3 linked regions of the Homo sapiens genome follow. The protein of the gene in region 2 interacts with the protein of the main gene of each other region in a pairwise test. Each region holds a gene or a part of one and is shown on either strand. Other genes may lie near its edges. The genes, in order: TIMMDC1, TMEM144 and HERPUD2.

Region 1 (4,481 bases), on a different chromosome or scaffold from region 2:
AAACTCACAGCTAATATCATACTGAACAGGGAAAAGTGAAAAGCTTTTCCCTCAAAGAACTGGAATGAAATAGGAATGCCCACTCTTACCAGTCTTGTTCAACATAGTATTAGAAATCCTAGCCAGAGCAGTTAGGCAAGAAAAAGAAATAAAGGGCATTGGAGGCCAGGCACGGTGGCTCACACTTGTAATTCCAGGACTTTGGGAGGCCGAGGCAGGCGGATCACTTGAGGTCAGGAGTTCGAGACCAGCCTGACCGACATGGTGAAACCCCATTTCTACTAAAAATACAAAAATTGTCATGGTGCACACCTGTAATCCCAACTGCGTGGGAGGCTGAGGCAGGAGGATTGTTTGAGCCTGGGAGGTGGAGGTTGCAATGAACCAAGATGGTGCCACTGCACTCCAGCCTGAGTGACAGCATGAGACAAAAGAAAATTAGGCACAGTAGTGCATGCCTATAGCCCCAGTTACTTGGGAGACTGAGGCTGAAGGATCCCTTGAGCCCAGTAATTCAAGGCAGCAGTGAGCCATGATTGTGCTACTGCACTCCAGCCTGGGCAACAAAGTGAGTCCCTGTCTCTTTAAAAAAAAAAAAGTGGGCGGGGGAGCTTGGGGGGAAACTTGTATTTCTCAAAAAATACCTACAAGTGCTAACAAGTATATGAAAAAGTATTCAACATAACTAATCAGGGAAATGCAAATCAAAACCACAATGAAATGTGGTTTGGGGACAGTTTGGGAAATTGGAGTGATATTTATCCCAATTAGAATGTCTATTATCAGAAAGACAAAAAATAAATTTTGGCAAGGATGTAGAAAGAAAAGGGAACTCATATACTTTTGGTAGGAATGCAAATTATTACAGCCTTTATAGAAACAGTATGGAAGTTCCTCAGAAAACTAAAAATAGAACTACTGTAAGATCCAGCAATCTTCCCTACTAGGTATTTATCCAAAGGAAAAGAAACCAGCATATCAAAGAGTTATCTGCGCCCCCATGCTTATTGTAGCACTATTAATAGCCAAGGTATGGAATCAACGTCAGTGTCCATCAACAGATGGATGGATAAAGAAAATGTGGTATATATCCACCATAGAATACTATTCAGCCATAATAAAGAATGTAATCCTGTCATTTGTGGGAACATGGATGAGCCTGGAGGACATTGTTATGTAAAATAAGTCATACACAGAAAGATAAATACTGCATGTTCTGTTGCTCATGTGGGAGCTAAAAAATGGGCTCATAGAAGTAAAGAGTAGAATTATGGTTACTGGAGGCTGAGGAGGGGACAGGGAAAGGCATAAGAAGAGGAGATTTAAGGGATTGATTAATGAATACAAAATTATAACTAGATCGGAGGCATAAATTCTAGTGTTCTGTGGCACTGTAGGATGACTATAGTTAATAATTTATTGTATATTTTCAAGTAGCTGGAAGAGAGGATATTTGAATGGTCCCAGCAGTATGAAATGATAAATGTTTGAGGTGATGCATATGCTAATTACCCTGATTTGATCATTACACATTGTATATGTACAAAAATATCACTTTGTACTTCATAAATATGTACAATTATTAGTATCAATTTTAAGACAGATGGATAAAAACAACTTGAATCATAGTAATGAAAGAATACTTTGGCAGAATGAAAGTGTCAAAATTGTATAGCATATACACGTATGGGTGTTTGTGTGTGTGTGTGTGTGTGTGTGTGTGTGTGAGATATTTCTAAGGAGAGTTAATAAACGTTTAAGTGTCTTGTATGTGCCTACTTCTTCGCTTGAAAATAATACAGGAAAATCAAACAAATTGAGAGTCAAAAAAATTGCCTCAATGAGCAGAAAATGTAGAAAACTGACTATAGAGATATAGAAGAACAAATGACCAAATCTGTGAAGAGTTGAGAAGAAACTTTAATCCCGATAATCACTTAAGGAAGACACTAATACTTGATTTAGAAACAGAACTGATCTATTATTTGGAAATTAGTTTTTAACTCTTCATAAATATAAATCTATAGTTTTGTTCTATCTGACTTTTCTCTACCTTGGATTACCATTGTTATAGCCTTTGACCAGTTCCTAAAAGGTCTGGTCACAGAGTTTAAGAGTGGCAGGGTACTTACATTCCCCCAGCCCTGGGAGCAAGAGGACAGCGAGACTTCAAGCCTTCACACCTTAGCACAAAGTGTGTCAGTTCCCACACATCACTCCTGTGAGAACTCTAGGACCCAGCATACTAGGAATATCTTATGGATCAGAGCTGTCACCACAACGGTATCCATTATGGTAATGTGGAAATCATAATTGGCTTGTGAGGTTAGGAGAGAGAAGAAAGTTACTGTATTTGAAGTTCAGGGAGCAGTATTTGCTTCTAAATTGCTATACCAAAGCAGGGAGGAAAAGACAAATGCTATCCTTTTTGTTTTAAATCTGTAAGAACTAAAGAAATGGAGCAGTATTTGATTTATCCTTTTTATCTGATTACAGGAAAGGCAGACTACAAGTTACTGAGCACCTCCCTGAGAAAATTGAAAGTAGTTTACAGGAAGATGAACCTGAGAATGATGCTAAGAAAATTGAAGCACTGCTAAACCTTCCTAGAAACCCTTCAGTAATAGATAAACAAGACAAGGACTGAAAGTGCTCTGAACTTGAAACTCACTGGAGAGCTGAAGGGAGCTGCCATGTCCGATGAATGCCAACAGACAGGCCACTCTTTGGTCAGCCTGCTGACAAATTTAAGTGCTGGTACCTGTGGTGGCAGTGGCTTGCTCTTGTCTTTTTCTTTTCTTTTTAACTAAGAATGGGGCTGTTGTACTCTCACTTTACTTATCCTTAAATTTAAATACATACTTATGTTTGTATTAATCTATCAATATATGCATACATGAATATATCCACCCACCTAGATTTTAAGCAGTAAATAAAACATTTCGCAAAAGATTAAAGTTGAATTTTACAGTTCGTATATTCATGTGGTCCTTTGAAAGGGTATTCTAGAAATCACTGGAAAGAGGAGAGGAAAGAACCAGGTAGGCAAATGGTCTGTGAAACCCTTGGGTCCTGGAAGCAGTGTGAGTGTAAATGTGTAGTGTTTGGTTTCATCTAAATAAACAAAGATGATTTCTTTGACACTTGAAATAAAATACAAATTCAACAAAAAGTAGATCAGCATTATTAAAGAAACGGTTCAACTTTGTTTCTTCCCTTAGTATTGCTGACAAAGTATCTGCTGTAGAATACAGGAATTACTTAGAATAGAAACATAGTCATCACAACTGTTACTAAATGGAAAAGAAAAGAATTATTGAGTTAAGTATTCCTGTCAATACGGGAAACACTGCTAGTACCTTATGTTGGTGTTAGACCTCTCTGCCCTACACTGAGAATATAGTTTTACACAGGAGCAAGGTTTGTGAAGCAGCATAGTGAGGTAGCTAAAGCCATGGGCTGGCTCTAAAGGCTTTAAATCCCAGCCATGTGGCTTAGCTGCCATGAGATGTGCATTTGAGAAATGTTGTCTTCTTTTGCTGTTCAACTCCAGATTTTCAGATGATAATGTGATTATCCCAGCTTAAGTTGCGTCCACTTCTGGTCTAGTGAATTGTGGAAGGCAGTTTTAGAGAAAGGAGTCATGAGTAACATGAACAGCAGTTGGCTATGTCTTTCCAGTTCTCTGCTGATGTCAGAAAGACCCAGAAATACCAAGGAGAAAAAGCCATCTTAGGGATCTAAGGAGGCCCTATGGAAAGTTACTACCTTAGACATTTGAAGATAGCTTACTGCTTAGTACATACACTGTAAACAACGATCTCATTTTAAATGAGAACTTTCTCATAAATATTTTACAAATGAGGTCAAACTAGCATAAAGCCATTTAAAGAGATTATCAGTCCAATATGAACCAGTTAAGTCTTTGGACTATCCCTTTCCTCCTTGACTACTGCTTTGACGTACCTAAATCATTCGTCTTACATGTCAGAGGAAATTAGTTTTGGATAGTTCTCCTTTCTGCTGTACCTCATGGGGGAGTGAGAGAGCAGCAATAGAGAACACAATGAAAAAAATGGAATACTGGGTAAACACCAATAATATTTCCATTAGTCTCCTAAAGATGTTCATGCCATACTTCCTATGCATTACATTGGGCTTTTGTAAACAGCAGCATAAAATCTTCTACTCTGACATTAGGAAATCAGATAGTCTCTGAAGTTGACCTGTTATTGGACAAATTCTACTTCCAGCAGCACTTTGCCTGACATATATATGTATATACCAGTTAACAGGCCACAGTCAAACTGATAAAGGGAAAGAGCACCAGAGTTAGGAAATCTGGGTTCTGGCGCTGGCCTTTATAATTCGGGTCACCTCCCTGGGCCTCAGTGCCTTTGTCATTAATAACACTGGTATTCTCTAAAGTCCCTTCCAGAACTCAAGAATTCTGCATTTCAAAACACCTTGATCAAGGTCAC
Region 2 (8,881 bases):
ACTGTACTCCAGCCTGGGTGATAGAGTGAGACCCTGTTTCAAAGGTTAAAAAAAAAAAAAGGAAAGAAAAGAAAAATATAACTTTCTCCATTCCTTTTGTGTCTTTATAATTAACATGGATTTCTGGTAAACAACGTAGAGTTGATGCCTGTATTTTATTCAATCAGTCGTTGTCTTTTAATTGGTAGACCATTTATATTTAGTGATACTTGATAGAGTTGGATTAATATTTCCCATATATTAATTGTTTTCTGTTTGTTGCCCTTGTAATTATTTCCCTTTTTTGTCCTCCCCTCTTCATATGGTTTGGCTCTGTGCCCCTACCCAAATCTCACGTGGAATTGTAATCCCCATAATCCCCACCTGTTGAGAGAGGGACTTGGTGGGAGGTGATTGGGTCATGTGGGTGGTTTTCCCCATGCTGTTCTCGTGATAGTGAGTGAGTTCTCACAAGATCCCATGGTTTTATAAGGGGCTCTTCCCGCTTTGCTTCCTCTCACCTGCTGCCATGTACAACATGCCTTTGCTTCTCCTTCGCCTTCTGCCATGATTCTAAGCTTCCTGAGGCCTCCCCAGCCATGCAGAACTGTGAGTCAAACCTCTTTCCTTTATAAATTACCCAGCCTCAGGTAGTATCTTTATAGTAGTCTGCAAATAGACTAATATACCTCTTTTGCTCCCTTTTCTAGTTTTAATTGAGCATTTTATATGATTCTATTTTCTCTCCTCTCTTAGCATATCAATTATACTTAAAAATATGTTTTTAGAAATTGTCCTAGAGTTTGCAGTACACATTTACAACTAAGTCCACTTTTCAATAACACTATACCATTTCACAGGTAGTGCAGGTACTGTATAAAAGATTATTCCCAGTGCCTCTCTCCTGTTCCTTAAAGCATTGCTGTCATTTATTTCATTTATTCATAAACTAATATCACCCAATATATTACTGATATTATTATTTTGAAGTTATCTATGCGATCAATTAAGAATAAGAAACAAATTATAGGTTGGTGGATTTTTCTTTCAACACTCTAAATATTTCACTCTACTCTCTTTTTCCTTGCATGGTGTCTGAGAAGTCTGATTAATTCTCATCCTTGTTCCTTATAAGTAAGGTGATAGTTTTTCCTCTGACTCCTTTCAATATTTTCTCTTTATTTTCCACAATTTGTATACAATATGCCTACATGTAGTTTTTTTAAAATTTATCTTGCTTGGTGTTATCTGATCTTCCTGGATCTGTGGTTTGATGTCTGTTATTAATTTTAGAAAGTTGTCCACCATTATTAGATACCTAGATAACTATTATTTATGTATCTTCTGCTGCTTTCTTTCTTTTCCTTCTGGTATTGCTATTACCTGTATTTTATGCCTTTTGTAATTTTCATACAGTTCTTGGAAATTGTGTTTCTTTTTCCTATTCTGTTTTCTGTTTCCATTTAAGTTTGGGAAGTTTCAACTGACATACCTTCAAGCTCACTGATTCTTTTGCAGCTATCAAAAGTGATTCTCTTTTCTATTGTAGTATTTTTTGTTCTCTAACATTTCCTTTTGATTCTTTGAGTTTTCATCTTTCTGTTTATTCGTTCTTGCACTTTTCCCAGTTGATCTCTTAGCATATTAGTCATAGCATATTTTAAATTTCCAGTCTCATAATTCCCAAATCCCTGCCATATCTGAATCTGGTTCTGAGGCTTGCTTTGACATTTCAGAGCTGTGTTTTTTCTTGCCTTTTAGCATGCCTTATAATTGTTCATTGAAAGTGAGGCATGATGTATCAGATAATAGAAAACAAGATAAGTAGACCTTTAGTTTTTATGTGTATTGGGCCAGAAGTTAGACTGTGCTTAATGGTTGTTGTAGCTGTAAGTATCAGAGGCTTCTATTTTCTCTAATATCTTTCTTTTTGTCTCCCCTATTTGTTGTCTTTGGGTTTTCCTAGAGACTCATTTTTAAGCAGAGTCTGTGTCTTGCAACTCTCTCTAGTTGTGATCCACAGTTATTATACCAAAACACTATTTATGTGGTCGTAAGATATTGGAGAGTTGATACATTCTATAATGTTATGATAAAATCTCTATTTTTAAATTCTTATTTCTTTTTAAACAATTTTAGATTCAGGAGGCACATGTGCAGGTTTCCTACATGGATAGATTCTGTAATGGTGAGGTTTGGGCTTCTAGTAAACCCATCACCCAAATAGTAAACATTACAGCCAATAGATAATTTTCAATCTGCTCTCCTCTCCCACGTTTCCCTGTTTTGGAGTCCCTAGCATCTATTATTTTACCTTTATGTCCATGTGTACCCATTGTTTAGCTCCCACTTATAAGTGAGAACATGCAGTACTTGATTTTCTGTCTGAGTTATTTCACTTAGGATAATGGCCTCTAGCTCCATTCATGTTGCTGCAAAGGACATGATTTCACTCCTTTTTATGGCTGCGTAATATTCCATAGTTTATATATACCACATCTTCTTTATCCAATCAACTACTGATGGACACTTAGGATGATTCCTAATTGTGAATAGTACCCCAATAAATATATGAGTGCCAGTGTCATTGATTATAACAATTTCTTTTCCTTCAAGTAGATACCCAATAGTGGGATTGCTGGGCCAAATGGTACTTCTATTTTCAGTTATTTGAGAAATCCCCATACTGTTTTCCGTAGGGGTTTTACTAGTTTACATTGTCATTAACAGTATATACGCATTCCCTTTTCTCTGTATCTTTGCCAACATCTAAAACTCTGTTTTCTAGTTGTCCAGAATCCCTGAGCTGTGAACTTCATAAGGGTTTCTTCTTTTGTTTTTCTCCTTATGTGAGAAAGAAAGTGTAGAAGGTGTTCAAACTGTCTAGTTGCCTTTTCTCTAATTCAGATAAAGCTCTGGGGTAAAGTTTACCTTGAGGACAGGCTTTTGTTTCTGAGTATATTTCAAATAGTTATTGTTTTCCTCCCACATGCCAGAAAAAAGAGGAAACTTTTGTCCTGTCTTCTGAAAGTAAAACTCATTAATGTGTGGATGCTCCCATATGAATGACTCCCACTGTCTCTGAGTTTTCAACTCTCAAGTTAGTCCACACTCAGCCTTCAGCAATAGGCCAAATACTGTATAAATGCCCCCCTATCCTTTACTGGCTCCAGTGGCTTTTGCTGTCCTGATAAGCTGTAATTCTCCGTATTCACCTATTTCTTCAGTTTGCAAAGAGGTGGCATGTCCTATGACATCAATTCTCTGCAGATCTAAAAAGAGTAGTTGATTTTTGATTTGCTCATTTTTTTCTTGTTGTGATGATGGAAGTGGAGACTTTCACACCTTTCAAATGTCAGAGCAGAAACCAGAAGTCCTAGTAATAATGTTATATATATATATATATATATATATATATATATATATATATATATATATATATCTCTTTTGACCACATAAAAGGGGGAGGTGCACAGGTCTTATTATTATCATTTTACATATAAGAAAACTAAGGTTTAAAGAGATTAAATGAGTTTCCATGAGAAATATTGCTAACAGACGAAGCTAAAGTCAGAACCTGGATCTTCTAGTGTCTGCCAGGACTCTCCCAATACAGACCATTCTGTTTAGGCATTCATGTATACGAAACAATTTGAAAGAAAAATTTTAGTTTAAGAATAGAGTCATGCATGTTTGGATTTGCTCTGTGGCATAATGTAAAAGGCAATGGCCTAGCATATCCCTAATGAATCTTCTCAGGCCTAATTCAGCCCCCAACTCACTTTTAGACTTTAGAAATTCTCAGCAAATGCTGACACAAGCTTCAGTTTCTCCATGTGAGTGAAGCAAGAATAAACCACATGATCTTGTGACCATGAAGTGAAACAATTCTAGGTTGGATTTAGGCCCTATATTTTTGGAAGCAAGTTTGTGTATGTGTGTGTGTCTTAGGTGTGCATGTGTGGAAAGGGGAACTGATTTCTTCAAAATCTTTCTGAACTGCTAAATTAATCCTCTTCCTTAAGTGAAAAAGCTTTGCTGCTTTAATTCTTTAAATGAAATGTTATTTTGCCTTCCCATCTGCTCATCTGACATGATAGTCTATGGATGTGATTAATGTTTAAGGCAGAACTTCCTTCTAGGAAATGTCATATTTTAACAGTCCTTGTGTTTTCTCCTTCCTGTGAATGCTACACCCATTACCAACCACTGGATGGTCTCGGGTTAAATAGCACTTCCTCAGAGAAGGCTTCTTTGAACTCAGACTAGCACAGAACCTACACTTCCCCTTTCCAACTTAAAGTTTGCATCCTTTGGTGTATGCGAACCCACATGAAGAGATGTTTTTTTTGTTTTGTTTTTTTTTTGAGAGGACTCCCTCACTTTGGGAGGGCGAGGCGGGCGGATCACCTGAGGTCAGGAGATCGAGACCATCCTGGCTAACACGGTGAAACCCCGTCTCTACTAAAAATACAAAAAAATTAGCCAGGTGTGGTGGTGGGTGCCTGTAGTCCCAGCTACTCAGGAGGCTGAGGCAGGAGAATCGCTTGAACCCAGGAGGCGGAGGTTGCAGGGAGCCGAGATTGCACCACTGCACTCCAGCTTGGACGAGAGCGAGACTCCGTCTTAAAAAAAAAAAATACAGATAAATGGCCTGTACAGATAAATGGCTTAGGTGCATCTACAAAGAATTAGTGATTACAAGTGAAATCTTGTAATGTCACAAGAAATGTTAATGACGTCAGTGGTGCAGATGAATTTCTTAATACCAAGTGGAAAAATTCACTTGAGATAATCTTTTACAATGGTGTGAAATTCCTCAGACTTTTGTTTTATCCATAAACTGCACAAATAATACCTCCCTCTGTGACACTTAGAGAGGGTGACATGCTGAGAGTTTCCTGAATAATCACCTCTTGAAATACACAAAACTCTTCTAGTTTCCTGGTTGACCGACCCAGGGCTTGACGACTCCTTTTGAGCCACCTGACAATTCAGTCCAGCACAGCAACTGAAGGAAGGCGTTCCCCAACCTGCTGTCCTATGAAGGCCTCTAGGTCACCGGTGCTAAAGCCCTCCTTTCTCCACCCTCCTTAAGTGGAGGTAAACGTCCCAGCAGGAAGTCAAGGCTGGATTGGCGCTCTTCGCGAGCACCCTGGGAACGGGAGTCTGGGTCACGGGTGCTAGAGCCCTCCCCTCTCCTCCCGGCCGGTGTATGGGAAATTGTCCCCGCAGAAAGTAAAGGCTGGCCAGGCCGCCCCCAGCACGTAGAGGGAATGAGTCAGGCTCCGGCTCCACACTGGCACGTAGTGGGCGGATCGCGCCGGCGCTGAGTAGGAAGGAGCTTCAGCCGCCAGCCCGGAACGCAGTGAGTACAGCCACTCAAAGGAAAGCCAAGTCGCTTTGCAGGGGAGCGTCTCATGATTTTTCAGAAACGTGCTCATGGTTAAAAAGAAAAATCAAGGCTCGGAATAAATACATTCAAGCACTGTTAATTTTAGCCCAAAGACAGGCGGTACTTGCCTGGAGATTTGGGAAAATCAACATGAAACTAAAAATGAAATTTTAGTTGGAGTGGAGCAAGCAGTATTGATCAGAACATACCAAATACGAATTTTTTCAAAGTCTGCGTAGAAGTTTAAATTACTAGGAAAAATGTAAAGGAGAAGTATTTACTAATAAATGAAACAAAAGTAATAAAATAAAAATGAATTAATATAGTTTGACAAAATATCAGCGAACGCTGAAAAGAAAACATTAAAATAATGTTTGAGACTTTTTAGGTTTTGTGCAGGAAGAATTGGGAAAAATGTGCTGGATGGAGTGATACTGCTTTTCTTTTCCACAAAAATTTCATTATTTTAGAGAGCGGTAGAGCCTTTTTAAAGACAGTAAGTTATTGCCAATTCACAATGAAATAAGATCACATGCTCTGAAATGTACAAGAGCTGCATGCAATAAACTTCATTTATCTATAGGTAATAACTGATTGATGTTTATTCAGTAGTCGAAATGCACCTCATGCACTCTAATTAGCACGTCAAATTAGTCTCTCCGTTTCAGAGGTGTAGGGCCTTTGTGGAGCCTTCTCAATAAAATAATTTGCCACTCTTGAAGGTTAGACATTCTCTTCTATCAATGTACACATAAAGGTTTTGTTTTGCTTTGCTTGTTGTGAATTAAAATGGGGAGAAAATGATGTGTTAGCTATCACCCAGTCATGTGTCTTTTTAGTCATAGGTTAGCTTTTCAAGACACTTCCTGCATCTCTGACCTGTTGCACCTCTGTTATCTTGGCACCTCTGTTATCTTAGCAGCAAGCACCTGCCTCAGCTGACCCTTGAGCCATAACCCATGTAAGTCACTGCAGGGCTGAACCTCTCTTTGAGCCTAACAGTAGAATAATAATTATTTTTATTGAATAGTGTTAATGTGTCAATGTTGAAATGTGCCTCAGTGTGTCTTCCTCAACCACATCCCTATAGAGGATGTTTTCTTAATAGCAATGTGTTTTTGTTTTAAGAAAGTCCACACAATTTCAAATACACATTTTCTTTACTAAAGTTTATTGACCAGTTTTGAAGTGATCCTTGTTTTCAGTTAAACTATCTTTAATAATGGTAAATAACATATTTTGTAGGTTGTTGTATATTTAATATTCTCTGCAAGAACACATAAGGAACAATACATGGACCTTTAAATATTTGTCATTGTGAAATAAAATAACAAGGAAAGGTGATTTCAGGTGTACTTTATTCAATACATATATACAAGAAGTTATTACTATAACATTAAATTTGCAGGAAAAAAGAAACCACTGGATTATTCTGCTTCTATTCCAGAGGGCTTATTCCAAAGGGCCAGTGTGCAAAATATGAATCCAAGATGGCATTGTGGAAAGACGCTGTACCTCCTGTGATAAAATTACTTTGGTGGTGCTTTTTTCTCATGTATCTCGGGAAACTAAAAATCTGAATTGTATTCAGTGGCCTTTTCCAAATGGTAACTTTATGAAAAAATGTCTAATTCTTGGTTATTTGTGGTTTTAGTCCTTTCTTCATAGAGAAGCTAAAGCTGTTAAATAAGCTTAGCAGCGTTATCCGCTAAAACTTTCTGCAGTGATGGAACCTACACAGGAGAATTTTTTTTGTAATGTACTAAAAATTTGTCTTCAGGGCTTGTTCTTTTTAAATTGTAGGCTAGTGATCAAAAATATTTGGTGATAGAATAAATTAACATGAAGTACAAACATTATATATAGTTGTGTAATATCCTATCTGCAAAAAGGAGTCTTAGCGTGCTTTTGAAAAATTCAATAAATATAATATGTTAATCACAATTTGGTCACAGATTCACGTCTCAATTGTTTCATTTTTTCTTTTATTTCAGAAGCTCCTGAAAAGTACATCAAGTCTAAAGTGAACCAGCTAACTCATTAAGACTGGAATCATGAGCAACAATGGAGCAGACCTAACCTTTGGTTACATCTCCTGTTTTGTAGCTATCCTTTTGTTTGGCTCAAATTTTGTGCCACTTAAAAAATTTGATACTGGTGATGGTAATTATTTTTCCTTGATTGTTAACGTTATATTATTTTTAAAAATGAAGTTCCTTTTTTGGTCTTTTAAAAGTATAGCTACAAAAATAAATCATGTTGATCTTGATACCTAGTGAATAGAGCTTAAAATTAGTCATTTGACAGTGCTCATACCAGTTTGTCTGAAAGTCAGAATAGGAGAACCATTAAGGTTGTTTCATGGTAAAGTTAGGGAGGGTACAGTCAGGAAATCTCTTGGGCCATTATATGAATGGAAGAAATTTATAGTCAGTTCTACTATAACACCTGTTTTGAAAACATGAATCTTCAACATGATTGATATATTAGAGAACAATGTAAGCATAACAGATTTTTGGCTTGCTTATGTGCAATTTTGTCCCTGAGAAACCTCTAGATAGGCACAGAAGACTGCACCTAGATGAATAAAGATGTGTGATAATACACATAATGCACGCAGACACACGTACAATCTTCAAATATCGACCAGCTCCCTTAGTTCATCACATGTGGTTATGATGTATTCCACCCAACCACATCTCCTGTCCCAACTCCTCACCCAATACCTTCACAGTAACTCGTAAGCTGCAACCCTTTGGATGCTCACTTCCAGGAGCAAACTTCTGGTGTTTTTCAATTAAAATGCCCTATTTATTACAGCATCATGTAATTAACCAGTTAACCAGTTAAAACTGTACTACTATTTTAATTAGGTTGAGTGTTGTTCTCCTAGCCCCATTTTCCCATTATGCTCTGTAGTTTTTACTGCATGATTTTGCATAGTGCAGTGATTTCAAGGAATGCACATGTTACATTATAGCAGAACTGACTAATGTGAATTTTGGGGAAGGAGAAGCAAGAGTTATTTGTATTTGCCTGACTTCCATATTAAAGCCAGGAGAAGGAATTGAGATTTATGGTGAACACATGTTGGGAATTACTTCCTTGGTAGTATTTATCACCTGACAGCAGTTGTGTTATTTCCCCAATTCTTTGTCTTCGTGCACTTAGAAAATAGGATTACCTCCTATTTTCCTCCAGGGCCTTTCTTCTCTTTTCCTCTGGAGTTAGGACAAGAATGGGAACTACCCGAAGAACAAAAAAATGGGTAGAGGATCTAGCTTTTTTAGTCTTCCACAATTAGCTTTGTGATCCTGGGCAAATATTACCAGCTCTGCTGTTTTCAGTTTCTCATTTGTAAAGTGAACAACTTATAAAATGAAGTTTCTTTTCATCTCTGTGATTCTACTCTTTTTATTTTTTATTTTTCATTTTTTTGGGGAGATAGAGTCTCACTCTTTCACCGAGGATGGAGTGAAGTATCATAATCTTGGCTCACAGCAACCT
Region 3 (8,710 bases), on a different chromosome or scaffold from region 2:
CTAAGTTTGCTAGGGGAGGGAGAAGTGAATTTAATATACCCATATGGAGACTGTGATTAGTCAAATCAATATCTGACCATGAAGCTAGGATCCCAAGATTTTACAACTTCATAGAGTTCAGCCAGAATTCCATTAACAGCATATAGACATATGACCTATCTTTGTAGGATCCTAAAAGGACAATCTCAAATTTCCATTCTTTCCCCTCTAGCAGCACCAATTTATTTTCCTAGAAGCCACTGCCCACAGGAACAAAGTCCCTCCACCTACTCCTGACCCATCAGATCCAATTAGAGCAATGTTGATGAGAGCCATCAACTTTTTACTTACTGGGGCACTCCTGTTCCTACAAAGCACTGGAGCCCTACTCTGCTAAGTCCACACACTGATAATGAAAGTAGGCATATGTGCAAGGAAGATGCACAAGAAATTATCTCTGTTAAACATAACAGCACTTGAAAACTAAAACACAGAATCAATGTTTAGTCATTGCAGGCGGTCAGAAAAACCTAAACTTCCTTTATAATATTACTTAATAGCAAACTGTGCTGAATTCTAAATAATGACCTTACAAAGTAAACTTTTAGGACTCCAACTCCTATGCTGAGGACTACCTATGGCTTTGCGATACCATTAAACTGCTGCTCAACAACTGTGATGCTTCAAATCAATTCTCACGTGATAAGAATGTAAACTTACTAAATCTAGTAACTATACAAAGTTTTCAGTGAAATTCTATGACGATAAACACACATACCCCCACCGCTCCAGAGCTCCACCCACTCAACCTAGAAATGAAAGTCAGACATTACAATTCACTTAAAGAAAACTTGTCAAAGGAGAAAAAAAGGTTTGCCATGTTAATCATTAATAGGCTGCATAGTATTTGGTTTAGCCTCCAAAAGTGTCTCCAGTGTGGCTACAGGAGGCAGGCAGTTTGGGAAGGAGTTCTGTAACAGATCTCATCCTCAGACAGCTAACTAATGCACAGCGGCACTGACATCCTCCACTAGTGATCAGTGCTGCACAGGCAGACCTCCTGCCAAAAGCAGGCCTCTTCATGGGTAGATAAGGCAGACAGGCTTCCCACTCCCGTCTCAGGTACTTTTTTTTAAAAAAGCTTTAGAAAAAAGTCTATAAACTGCAGACTAGGTCCCTTTTGGTTTAATAGTACAATGTAAAGATCTCGCCTACGTACATACCAGAGCATATATTTGCTATGAACAGTATTATGGAAGTCTATGACTTTCAATTGACTATCCTAAAAACCTATTTTCCACTTCAAAAATGTGTGAAACTAATCATATGCAACAGGAAATCTTTTGTAATCAAGGTATTTTCAAACAGATTCTTACTCCCTGTGTAAATCTTAACTTTCAAACAAAAGATGTGAATAAACAGGGGCTCTAACTAGTTTAAGTACTTAAATTCCTCAGGGTTTTTTTTCCCTCCTACTAAAAATATTTGTATCACAAAGTACTGATAAACACAGCTAATGCCGATTAAGAGTTGTTTTTCTAAACCTCCTGTTTTTGCAATAACCGTCCTATTTCTGTGGTTCTTCTGCAAGTCTAAAAGCCTAACTAAACTTAATACTACAACACTGAAATGCTCATAATTCATTAATATCGTAATATAGATCAAGTGTCTTCCTTAACTTAGGTGCATAAAACAAGTGTTAAGTGTAGAAAGCATAGTTGCCTTCCAACAGATCCATGCTTAAATGTACCTGATGCCAAAAGTTATTTCCCACCCTAAAATCCGACCCTCTTTATTAAACAAAAGTTTTAGTAATTAAACACTACTTATTCAAGAATAAAAAATGTATACAGTGGAGAATGCGAAAGCCTCACTTTCATATACAGTACTCTACATGACGGTATACTTCTTTTCTAAACTATTCCAAGACTCCTTGATTACCAACCACGGCCTTTCAAATCTGACTTTGGGGACAGATGGAGCTGTACTGTCTATATTTTATTTATTATCTCTGCAATATCCAGTTATGATTCAGAATGGAACACAGAATGGAAAAGCCATATGAGAGGGATGCACCAAATGGTGGTGGGGTGGAGGGCAGTTCTCTTTTAAACTAATGTCCATGTATCCTCTACAGGAGAAAAATGTTGAAAGGGGTTGTGGTGAAAACGAATCTACAACTTATAATTCTTTGGTCCTTGAAACATATATAGTAACCTTGAAAGTATAATTTTTATAGGGGACACATACTTATTTCTAAGAAAAAAAAATCTTCAATTTCTGTTTAAGTTTCTGGGCCAAGTGTTGAAAGTAAAATGGAATTTTAGTGTAATAAGCAATAAAAGCTCTGATACGGGTTGTAGTGCTTTATCTTTTTTTTTTTTAAGAAAGGATATATCTCTCACTCGCATATTAGGTTGATGACTTTAAGTCCAAAGAAAGTAGTCCCTTTTCCATGCCTGCCAATTCTTTGAGACAGAGTCTCACTGTGCCACTCAGGCTGGAGGGCAGTGGTGCGATCTTGGCTCACTGCAACCTCCGCCTCCCGGGTTCAAGCGATTCTCCTGCCTCAGCCTCCTGAGTAGCTGGGATTACAAGCATGCGCCACCACGCCCAGCTAATTTTTGTATTTTCAGTAGACATAGGGTTTCACCATGTTGGTAAGGCTGGTCTCGAACTCCTGACCTCGTGATCCGCCCGCCTTGGCCTCCCAAAGTGCTGGGATTACAGGTGTGAGCCACCGCGCCCGGTCTTTGCCTGCCAATTCTTAAGTCCCTTGATATTTCTGCTTCCTCTTACTAATTAACTGAACCTCATCAGGAAAATATTAATGATGGTTCGAACACTCAGGAGACACAACCTCAGAACTCAAAATACCTCGCGGTCTACCAAAAGAGACCTATTTGATTCAAGACTGGAGGGGAGAAGCAGGAAAAAGGAGGGTACACGGCACGAAAAGCTGCTGGTCAGAGCAGCTGCCCCCAGCTTTTACACACTTACTGGTTTGCTAGGGTAAACGTTAGATAGATGCGTTTTTAGTTTCCCCACGGTCCAGTTCAAGAAGCAGCTAATAGTCTGGTCACTGTATTTCTGATTCGGTGCTTTAATGATGAGGGTCACAGGAATCTCCATCCCACTTTGGTCCATGGTGCCCCCAAAGTCAGACAGAGTCCAGAGGAGCGGCAGTTAAGCCCAAAAGAGCCGAGATGGTCACCGCCGGCGCGACTGGGATGAGGACAGAAGTGAGTTCTTAGTATTCCGTGTCCAAGTCAGTTACAAGTGCACTGGAGGATACGAAGCCCATTGCCGGTACCAAGGATGGACTGAGGTGGTGGCGACTGCGACGGTGGGGTCTGGGTGCCCGGCCGTGGAGGCAGCTCTCCCCGCCAGGTCCGGGCTCCGCCGGGCTCCGGACTGTGGAGGCCGTCGTGAGGAGAAAGGAAGCTATACGAAGGAAGGGTGGGAGGGATGAGGGCACAACGGCCGGCCCGGGGTCACTGCCCCGCCCCACCGCGACCCCCAAGCTGGAACGCAACAAGGCCCCTACGCCACGGCCCCGCGGTGCGGATCGGGGAAGCAGCTGGGCCGCTCAGGGCGGTCAGCGGGCACTGGGGTACCTGAGAGAAGGCCGCGGGGCCCGCCACCGCCGCCCTCCGCGCCCAGGCAGGGCCGCCAGCCACACCGTCCGGCCAGGCGTTTTCCGTGGCAGCCGCTCCCTTCCTGCTGCGCGGCGACCGGCACGGCCCAGCCCCGGGTCTCGCGAGGAGGCGCGGGTGAAAGGGAGAGAAGCTGACCGAAGGCGCGGCCCGGCTCTCCGCCTGACCCCTCAGTCTGGACAGCGCAGGGTGGCGGCAAGGCAGGGCTGGGCCGGGGGCGGCCCAGGCGACTACAGGTAGCAGGAGGGCGGGGACGAGAGCCGTTGCGCCACCGCTGGCGCGCCGGTTTTGTTGTTATTGCGAGGATTGTCTGGGGCCCCTTTAAGCCGGAACAGGCAGGGCGGAAGTGCGTCACCGGCGGCACGCCCCTGCACATGGACCTCCCCCGTCCCCGCCATCCCTGCCGATCCTGTTGCTGCCGCCTTCCCGCCGTGCTCGGGCTGCCCGGGACTCTAGCCGCCAGGCTTCGCGTCGCCCAGCGGCAGATCGGGCTCCTGGGAGCCTCTCCCCTGGCCGTTTGCTCGGCCTCGGCCCCAGCTGCCCTGGGGCCTAGCCACTAGCTCCCCTGGCGCTAGCCTACCCTGTCTTGACCGCACCCTGAAGATTTGGGAAGTCTTTCTCCATCCCAAGAGTCGTCTCTGCAAAAGTTGGTGTCCTTCCTGGTGCTGAACCACGCTTCTGCTCAAAATGTGTTGAGCGTCGTCTGTCTGCAAAGCACGGTGCCAGGAGCTTTGGTGGAGAAGGCATGGGGTACATGTGTAAAGAGTACAGGCTTTTGGTTAAACCTGAAGTCCTCCTCTACTTTCTGGGGGACCCTGGCCGTCCTTGCTGAGCCTCCGTTGACTTCTCTAATGGGGACGGTAATGCCTACCTGACCACAAGCTGATGAGTAAATGAGCTATGAGTGCAAAGTGTGGTGCAGTTCTGGCGTGTGCCAGCCTCTCAAGTGTCAGTTTCCGTCTCATTCCTCTTAATCTTCACTAAAATGGACAAGTATTCATTGAGCACCTAATGCGTGTTCAGTATGGTGGGAGATGAGGGATGACAGTATTATTTTTCTATTTTATAGGTTAGACATAGAACAAAAGGTTGAGTCTATTGCCCATAGCCGAACTTTTCTTCATTTTCTACTGTGGTTTAGAAGTCGGTATAGTAAGTTAAGGGTTGTTAGATGTGCATTTTCACAGCTCCCAGCTTCCACTTAGGAGTAGATAACATAGGGGACTTTGCGAGCTGGTCTCTTTCCCTCTTAGCTTCAGAAGGGCTTCGAGGTAGCCACCACTGAATTAGTTGAGAGACAAGGCACCCCTACGGAGGAAATCTCAACTGCACAACCCCTACTGTGCCCCAATTCAGCAGGAAGCAGTTAGAGCGGTGGTCAAACCTCCCCAATAGCACTTGGGTTTTCCTGTTGAGAGGGGGTACTGAGAGACAGGACTAGTTGGATTTCCTAGGCTGGCTAAGAATCCCTAAGCCTAGCTGGGAAATTGACCACGTCCACCTTTAAACACGGGGCTTGCAATTTAGCTCACACCCGACCAATCAGGTAGTAAAGAGAGCTCACTAAAATGCTAATTAGGGAAAAACAGGAGGTAAAGAAGTAGCCAATCATCTATCGCCTGAGAGCACAACAGGAGGGACAATGATCAGGATATAAACCCAGGCATTCAAGCCAGCGGTGGCTACCCTCTTTGGGTCCCCTCCCTTTGTATGGAAGCTCTGTTTTCACTCTATTAAATCTTGCAATTGCACACTTTTCTGGTACGTGTGTGTCACAGCTCAAGCTGAGCTTTCGCTCACCGTCCACCACTGCTGTCTGCCGCTGTCACAGACCCACAGCTGACTTCCATCCCTCTGGATCCAGCGAGGCGCCCATTGCTGCTCCTGATCGGGCTAAAGGCTTGCCCTTGTTCCTGCAGGGCTAAGTGCCCAGGTTCGTCCTAATCTAGCTAAACACTAGTCACTGGGTTCCACGATTCTCTTCCATGACCCACAGCTTCTAATAGAGCTATAACACTCGCCGCTTGGCCCAAGATTCCATTCCTTGGAATCCATGAGGCCAAGAACCCCAGGTCAGAGAACACAAGACTTGCCACCATCTCGGAAGTGGCCCGTCACCATCTTGGAAGCGACCTGCCACCATCTTGGGAACTTGGGGAGCAAGGACCCCCAGTAACATAGTGACCAGGAGGAAATTCTTCCTCTCAACAGCTAATGCAGCAGGATCTCTTACACCGTACCCTCCCTCACCTTGCTCTTGCTCTTCATGGTAGAACACGTACCATATCTTAGCTGTACTCTATCAACTGCGCATCTGAAGTAAAGAGTGAAGTCTTCTTTGTTTCCAGTCATGGAGCAACAACTTGCTATGATACTGGCCTTCTGTAGCTGACTCTTCTTTGTCTACCCAGGCACTCTAATGGAACTTTAATTCTAGCTAAAGTTATTTTCTCAGACTCCTTTGAAGCAAGGGGCAGCCATTTGACACACTTCAAGCCAATGAGTTGAATGTTGAACTTATTGCTGAGGCTTCTAAGAAAGCATATAGATGGAAGGGCTCTGCGAATCAGAGCTCATCTTTGCCCTACACCTGTCTTCCAGGAGGAACGTGAAGAGCTACAGCACTCATAGTTCAGTCATGAAACAACAAACAGGAGAACAATGGCCTGCATTCCAAGGATGGCAGAGCAGAAAACTGTAAAGAGGCTGGGCATTTGATGGCATTGTGGTGCCACCAGACAAGCCCTAAGCTATCTTCCCTAAGACTTCTTGTTTTGGGTCAAATTCCTGTTTAAGCCAGGAAGTTTTCACAACCTTCACCACCCAGTCCTGCAGCTGTTGTCTCATGCTTGTGACTCAGACTTCCAGGAATCCTTTAGAAGTGATGTGGTGATCTCGTTTGGCACTATGCAATGTACACTATTAATGAAGGTACCCTAATAATTATAAATATTAAGACAGAATGTGCATTTCACAGTGATTTAAACACTCTTTAACACTCTTTAAAACAGTCCATCAAAGGTTCGCTAACACAGAGAAAAACATTTAAAATTGTAATAAAGGCTGGGCGCAGTGGCTTGCCTCTAATCCCAGCACTTCAGGAGGCCGAGGCAGGCAGATTGCTTGAGCTCAGGACTTTAAGACCAGACTGGGCAACACGGAGAAACCCCGTCTCTACAAAAAAATTCAAAAATAAGCCGGGCGTGGTGGTGCACGCCTGTGTTCCCAGCTACTCTGAAGGCTGAGGTGGGAGGATTGCTTGAACCCAGAAGGTAGAGGTTGCAGTGAGCTGAGACCATACCATGCACTCCAGCCTGGGTGATAGAGTGAGACTCTGTCTCAAGAAAGAATAAAAAGTAAAAATAAAATTGTAATGAACATTCAAGAAATTGAAATATACGGGTACAAAGATGATATAGTATCAGAAAAAATGATTTTTTTTAAATTTTACAGCCACTTGAATTAAGTACCTAAAAATGCTTTTGATGCTGTTGAGCTTGGCTATGATAACAACAGTATGTAAATATTCCACTTTTGTTAAAATATGTATAAACAGGTATGTGTACAGAGCAGTGTATGAAAGGGTGGTCCCCAGAATATTGATAGTGTTTGACGTGGAATTTGGGCTAGGAAAAATAATTACCAATGAGGAGATACAAGATAGCAGCAGTTAGGGAGAGGCCGTCCATGCAGCTGCCTATTTAAATCACTGTCCATGTTAACAGATAAGAACTGGAAATGTCAAAGAACAATTGCCCAGCTCAGTTACCATCTGCTACTAAAGATAGCCCCAGCTGGGTGCGATGGCTCACACCTGTAATCCCAACACTTTGGGAGGCTGAGGCAGGTGGATCACCTGAGGTCAGGAATTCAAGACCAGCCTGGCCAACATGGTGAAACCCCATCTCTACTAAAAATACAAAAAATTAGCTAGGTGTGGTGGTGCATGCCTGTAATCCCAGCCACTAGGGAGGCTAAGGCAGGAGAATTGCTTGAACTCTGGCAGCAGAGGTTGCAGTGAGCTGAGATTGTGCCACTGCACTCCAGCCTGGTCGACAGAGTGAGACTCAGTCTCAAAAAAAAAAAGCCCGTAATGAGAACTCTCAAGAGTACCATGGTAATATAATATGGTAATAGATAATAAAAGAGTCATGATCATTAATAATAAATATAATACTTCTACTTCAACTGAGGAATGGAAAACTAAACATCATATGTTCTCATATGTCCCTAAGCTATGAGGATGCAAAGGCATAAGAATGATACAATGGACTTTGGGGACTTTCAGGGAAAGGGTGAGAAGGGCGTAAGGGATAAAAGACTACAAATTGGGTTCAGTATATACTGCTCGGGTGATGGGTGCACCAAAATCTTAAAAATCGCCAAAGAACTTATGTAACTAAATACCACCTGTTCCCCAAAAAACTATGGAAATTAAAAATTAAAAAATAAGTATAATTTCTGCTTTAGCGATATTAACTATTCAGTACACAATAAGTGAGTTTAGCAATTCAGTGATTTCTGACTGTTGGGTAGCTCTCTTTGTTAACAAATAAAATATAAATTTGAAGAAACTTATTTGTAAATAATGGTTTTCTGTGAATTAATGGGATGTTTGTTTACTTCCACTTCTTCTTTGAGGTGTAAAAGAGAACAGCTAGAAAACACATATTGTGGCTGGGGCGGTGGCTCACACCTGTAATCCCAGCACTTTGGGAGACCGAGGCGAGCGGGTCACTTGAGGTCAGGAGGTTGAGACCAGCCTGGCCAACATGATGAAACCCCGTCTCTACTAAAAATACAAAAATTAGCTGGACATGGTGGCACGCACCTGTAGTCCCAGCTATTCAGGAAGCTGAGGCAGGAGAATCGCTTGAACCCGGGAGGCAGAGGTTGCAGTGAGCCAAGATCACACCACTGTACTCCAGCTTGAGTGACAGAGTGAGACCTCCATCTTGGGGAAAAACAGTAAAAAAAAAAAAAATTGATTCATTCAGTGAGATTACAGTTTCCTTTAAAAATTCAAAGTAAGTGCTTGTCACTGAGCTTTTCTTACTGAAATTTGGAGTACCTTC

What was found.
Region 1: the proteins of TMEM144 (region 2) and TIMMDC1 interact in binary tests that used the Homo sapiens proteins (3 or more experiments, as listed by UniProt).
Region 3: the proteins of TMEM144 (region 2) and HERPUD2 interact in binary tests that used the Homo sapiens proteins (3 or more experiments, as listed by UniProt).

Annotation. Positions count from the first base shown.
Region 1 is NC_000003.12:119,521,110-119,525,590, forward strand, and holds the end of TIMMDC1 (complex I assembly factor TIMMDC1, mitochondrial isoform 1 precursor), read left to right. Parts: intron 1-2,496; coding exon 2,497-2,647; 3' UTR 2,648-3,981; downstream 3,982-4,481.
Region 2 is NC_000004.12:158,205,240-158,214,120, forward strand, and holds the start of TMEM144 (transmembrane protein 144), read left to right. Parts: upstream 1-5,246; 5' UTR 5,247-5,347; intron 5,348-6,213; 5' UTR 6,214-6,335; intron 6,336-6,821; exon of another isoform or gene 6,822-6,981; intron 6,982-7,368; 5' UTR 7,369-7,428; coding exon 7,429-7,537; intron 7,538-8,881.
Region 3 is NC_000007.14:35,691,205-35,699,914, forward strand, and holds the start of HERPUD2 (homocysteine-responsive endoplasmic reticulum-resident ubiquitin-like domain member 2 protein), read right to left. Parts: upstream 3,932-8,710; 5' UTR 3,597-3,931; exon of another isoform or gene 3,424-3,596; 5' UTR 3,127-3,423; coding exon 2,980-3,126; intron 1-2,979. UniProt on the Homo sapiens protein: Could be involved in the unfolded protein response (UPR) pathway.